Regions from separate parts of the Homo sapiens genome. Here region 2 is linked to region 1. A link means that fine-mapping ties the variant in region 1 to the expression of a gene that starts in the linked region. Tissue or cell type: blood mononuclear cells. Region 1 holds a variant in brackets; the other region holds the start of a gene. All regions are shown on one strand. Distances are between the middles of the regions.

Region 1 (2,915 bases):
GCCTAGGGAAGTTATTCACGAAGAGCGACCTCTAGTGGGCAAGGGTCATAGTTAATTAGAACCTGGAACTCTCCCAGAAAAGCATCTTACCCCCATTTCAGCTTGTTTTGACAACAGCTTGAAGAGGTTTTGAATAAATAGTGAATTTGTGATTAAAAAAATGTTTCTTGTTTTAACATTCGTTATAAACATCTCATTTACATGAACATTTCTGTGACTATAAAAACTTTCAAGGCCAGGTGCGGTGGCTTACACCTGTGATCCCCGCACTTTGGGAGGCCGAGGTGAGTAGATCACCTGAGGTCAGGAGTTCAAGACCAGCCTGACCAACATGGTGAAACCCCGTCTCTACTAAAAATACAAAAAACTAGCTGGGCGTGATGGCGGGTGCCTGTAATCCTAGCTACTTGGGAGGCTGAGGCAGAATTGCTTGAACCTGGGAAGTGGAGGTTGCAGTGAGCCAAGATTGTGCCATTGCACTCCAGCCTGAGTGACAGAGCAAGACCCTGTCTCAAAAAAAAAAAAAAAAAAACTTTCAGTACCAACTATTACAACTATATAGTAAGATGGCTGCTTTAACACAATTGTAGTTTTGAATAACAAAAAATTTTATTTTTTACAGTGAAACTGACAGGAGAGACATAAATTATTAAGTACAAAGGCTCACATTTCTGGGACTTATTTGGTTCAATTTAGGTCTCTGGTTATTATAAAGAATTCCCTAATAGAGGCTGTAGAGGTAATTAGGAACAGAAAGTGAGGTCAGAAGCATAAATTGCAGCCATCTTTGTGAAGGGGGATTTGGCGGTTTCCATTAAAGTATAGAACACACATACCTTTGAGCCAGCAATTCCGCTTCCAGGATTTTATGATGTAGATTCACTCATATAAATGAGCAGAAATCCATGTGCAAGAATGTTTTCTGCACCAGTTATTATAATAAAAAGAAAACAAACATTTATCTGTAATAAACTAAGGAAGAGTCATAGAAAATGATGCAGATATGTAGAATGATGTAGGAGATTATATTGATACAGAAAGTTCAATATTAAAACTATTAAAAAAGTTTTAAAACAGTATTGTCTTAAAATATATCGCATGCATGAACACAGTACATTTATGAAAGTCTGCAAAAGAATTGAATGATTACACTTTCAACCCTTCACATCATTGTTTGCTTTTGCTTAACTATGAACACCCATTACTCAAAGGAGTTAATGTAGTCTTATCTAAGAGTTAAGAACACAGACTTTTAAGCCAAACTCCCCAGGTCCAAAACGTGGCCTCATTAATTACTATCTCTGTTATTTGGACACGTTCTTTATCCTCTTTGTGCCTTAGTTTCCCCATCTGTATATGGGGGTGATACATTTTTATTAATGTTCATCTATGCAAAGCACTTAGAACAGTGCTAAAAGTGGGCCAGGCATGGTGGCTTATACCGATAATCCCAGCACTTTGGGGGGCCAAGGCAGGAGAATCACTTGAGGCCAGGAGTTCAAGATCAGCCTTGGTAACATGGTGAGACCCTGGTTTCACAAAATATTCAGAAATTAGCTGGGTGTGGTGGCTCATGCCTGAAGTCCCAGCTATTGGAAGAAGCTGAGGCAGGAGGAATGCTTCAGCCCAGGAGTTGGAGGCTGCAGTGGGCTAGGATCGAGCCACTGCA[G/C]TCCAGCCTGGGCAACAGAGGGAAACCCTGACTAAAAAGAAAGAAAAAGAGCAGTGCTGAAAGTGTTTCGCTACTGTTATTTTAACTTACAATTTTAAAAACTAGGTGTTGATATATTAGGGAAAATTGGGTGAAGGGTACCTTTGCAATTTACTATGAATCCGTAATTATTTCAAAGTAAAAAGTTAAACATGCAGTTATTAAAAATAACTGATATAAAAGATTGTCAAGATGTCATGTTAAGTAAAAAAAGCAAGATGTGTAACAATGCATCAAGTAAGCTCAATTTTATGTAGAGAAATGGGGAAGGGAATGAGAATATATATATTTTGCTTATGTGTGTGAAATGAAATTCTAGAAGAGATTGTTAAAAACTAATAACTACTTGGGAAGCAGGCTTTATTTTTGAACCAAATGACTGTGTTACCTATTGAAAAATTATTTAAAAATAAGACTAGTAACAAAAATGCAAATAACACTTCCATCATAGCATAAAAGCATTTCCATTTGTAACGAGTCAAATAACACCAATTTGACAAATAACAGGGTGCATTGAGTTCAACAGTAAAGTACTTTCCAGTGGCACTATTTCACTCACAATGTGTACAATTCAGACAAGTTTAATTCCTAAGTCTTTGAGGGGGAGCTGAAGAACCACTCCTTCAGGTTTCAGACAGACAGGTTTCAGGAGGTTACAAGTAGCATATGGCCTTATCTAAGATCTAGTGACATTTCTAACTTAAAGCTTTTGAAATGAGGAAGACATCTTAAGGACATCACCACCTGGTGAAGACTTCTCTGATGTTAAGCACATGTTATAAGTCCTGGAACTTGCTGGCATTAGTCCTAGAGAAAGAAGGATGAGGCTGAGCATGGTGGCTCATGCCTATAATCCCAGCACTTTGGGAGGCCGAGGCGGATGGATCACGAGATCAGGGGTTTGAGACCAGCCTGGCCAACATGGTGAAACCCCGTCTCTACTAAAAATACAAAAATTAGCCGGGTGTGGTGGCATGCACCTGTAATCCCAGCTACTCTGGAGGCTGAGGTAGGAGAATCACTTGAACCTGGGAGGCGGAGGTTGCAGTGAGCCTAGACTATGCCATTGCACTCCAGCCTGGGTGACAGAGTAAGACTCTGTCTCAAAAAAAAAAAAAAAAATAGAGTGAGAGGGAGAAAGAAGGACTATTGGATATACAAATTTGGATTTAGCCAGAGTTATCCTGGGTAGGGAAGAGTCAGACAG
Region 2 (2,915 bases), 68 kb after region 1:
CCTTATAATGCAGTGATGCAGGCCAGCAATAGGGACACAGAGAGAGGCCACTGGCCTTGCTGGGATGGAAAAGTGAAGAACCAGGTAAGGTTTCCTTCAATAAGTACTTTCTGGGCCAAGTCTTGAAAGAGTAAAACTAAGACCAACTACCTAGGACCAGCTGCTGCAGCACTTCTGATGCCTGTCACGCCACAGAAAAACCGGTAAACAGAAGCACTGAAAGGACATCATCACTCTTAACTATTGTACACCAGTCCCTCCAATGTGGCAGAGTGTACAGCAATGAAAAAAGGCTTGGAAACACCAGATGCTACACTTTGCTTCCTTCCCCCTTCACACCCCCACCTCTACATTCACCCAAACACACCAGAGAATCCCACAGTGTACGTTTGATTAAGGGTACTAGAAGAACTGACATTTCTAATGTGCTCTATAAAATGTTAAAGTCAAATAAGGCCCCAAAGAGACGCAAAGCTTCGCAAACATCTCGGCAAGGGAGAATTCTCAACGCCTCAGGGAGAGCGGCCTGTTGAAACTTGGATTTTCTTCCTGATACGACGCGCCTAAGATAGTGGACCTATCAGAAGCGGGGGCGAGACGGGCACCTTGAAGGGCAGAGCATGCCCCGCCCGTGACCTGGGCAGCAAGAGCCCTTTAGCCCTCTCCGCCTCGGTTTCCTCAACACCGAAACTGCAGTAAGAATGCTCGAGCCTCCACCAAGTCCTTGACCCAGGAGATCCGCCGTGGAGAACGGAATACGCCCTTAGGATATTGTGCAAAACACCCAGGCGTGGCAAGCAGGTGGCTTCTGTGCGCTCAGTAACGGGGGCGCAGACAGGTGCCCGCGTGCTCGGGGTGCCCTCTCTCCGCGCTGTCCCCCGCACGCACGCGAGCCCAGCGCCTCCCGAGCGAGTGCCCCGGTGCGGCCTCCTCGGGCGCACGGTGCCCAGCCCAGCAACGAGGTCGCCCACCCCGCCTCCCTGCGCGCAGTGCCCGGTGCCCACGCCGCAGCATGGGGCGCGCAGCCCTCACCGCCCGGGAGAGGCGCTTCCTGGAAGCGGAGCCCCGGCCTCCAGCCCGCCGCCGCTCACCAGTTCCCCGAGCCCACGATGCACACTTTCAGGGGCGCCGCTGCCATGGCCGGGCCGAATGTAGCCGCCTGGACCGTGCTTCCCTGGCCGGCTGCCCACCTCCGCCTGTTCAGCCTTGCCCGCAGCGGCTGGCGGCGGCCCCGCCCCTTTCGCCTCTCCGCCAATGGTCGCGGCCACCCCCGCCCGGCGCCGGGGGCCGCAGCTGACAGCGGGGCAGGACCCGCTTCGCCACTCCCAAGAACCACTGCGCACGCCTGGCCCCGGCCGGCCTCCAGGCCCGGCTCCGGCACCGCCCCGCCCTGCCCGAGGCACGTCGGGACATGTAGTCCTCACCCCCCGTCGCTGCGCGGCCCTAGGCAGCAGCTCCCGCCGCGCCACATGCAGGCCCAGGCCACTGAGCAGCGACTCGCGCCCCTGGTTCCCGGTGGAGGCTGCACTCCATCCTCATGGGTGGAGCAGACCCAACCAGCTTGCCGTGGTGCCCCCTACACGCTCCTTTTTCCCTACTCGGGAAGGGCTGCCACATTGCCATTTGGAGCCGAGAGAGGCTCCTAGGTTGACTCTCAAGCCGACCAGACTTGGGGCAGAGCTCGAAATGCCCACCCGACCTTGTCATCCTCTGTTTCATTTGCACAAACAAGACACAGCCTGGCACCTCTGAACTTCTTAGAGAACTTGGATCTTCAGAGGACTTTGGAATTTGGCTGAACAGTACCTGCATTTCAAGGATGACACCTTTTCTAGTTAGAGTCAAGATAGAAACTTGACCTGGTGCAGTGGCTCACACCTGTAATCCCAGCACTTTTGGAGGCCGAGTCAGGAAGATCACTTGAGCCCAGGAGTTCGAGACCAGCCTGAGCAACATAATTAGGACCCCCCACCCCTCTGTACAAAAATTTAAAAAATTAGCCAAGCATGGTGGCACGCACCTATAGTCCTAGCTACTCAGGAGGCTGAGGCGGGAGAATTGCATGTGCCCAGGAGGTCGAGGCTTCAGTGAGCCAGGATAGGGCCACTGCACTCCAGACTGAAGGACAGTGAGACCCTGTCTCAACAAAAAATAAATACATAAAAATAAAGGGAAAAAGGTAACAACAGCTTGCATTCAGTGGGTGTCACCCTCACACGCTTACTTGGCAGGAATTGCTTTACCATTGTCTTTGCCCAGGGCCTGACTTATCCCTTGCTTGTGGTTTGTTTGCATTTGTGAGTAACACAATGCTCTCCTCCTTGACAAATAGAATCTTAGTTTGTTCATTCTGAGCATCAGTCTCTGCCAGGCACTGTGCTAGACGCTGTCAGAGTAGGACAAAGTCCTTTAAACCAGTGGTTCTCAAACTCTGCTGCATATTAGTCACTGGGGCTTTTAAAAATCCCCATGCCCAGACACCATTGCAGGCCAGTTACATCAGAATGTCCCATGGTGGGATCCAGGCATCAGGATATTTACTTATTGACATATATTTTTTGAGACAGTCTCCTTCTGTTGCCCAGGCTGGAGCAGAATTTTTTAAAGTTCAAGAGGTAGTTGCAAAAGCAAGCCAAGATTGAGAACCAGAAGACTAAAATATCAGTGGATTCTGGCTAAAGAAACAAATACTCTAGTACCTACAAAAAACTAAGCCTAGGCCGGGTGCCGTGGCTCACGCCTATAACCCCAGCACTTCAGGAGGTCGAGGCAGGCAGTTCACCTGAGGTCAGGAGATGGAGACTAGTCTGCCCAACTTGGCAAAACCCCGTCTCTACTGAAAATACAAAAAATTAGCCAGGCATGGTGGCAGATGCCTGTAATCCCAGCTACTCAGGAGGCTGAGACAGGAGAAT

The links.
Region 2: GPD1L starts here. The variant in region 1 is fine-mapped to the expression of GPD1L in blood mononuclear cells (TOPMed, PIP above 0.99).

Annotation. Positions count from the first base shown.
Region 1 is chr3:32,172,924-32,175,838 of GRCh38, reverse strand. No RefSeq gene overlaps it. Among named protein-coding and RNA genes, the nearest start is that of CMTM8, 64 kb to the left of the region's middle. The variant G/C (reference allele first, on the strand shown) is at 1,670.
Region 2 is chr3:32,104,935-32,107,849 of GRCh38, reverse strand. GPD1L (glycerol-3-phosphate dehydrogenase 1 like) reads right to left here and starts at 1,230. Exons shown (of 8, transcript NM_015141.4): 1 at 1,092-1,230. The coding sequence starts at 1,138. RefSeq lists silencers at 828-967, 1,088-1,497.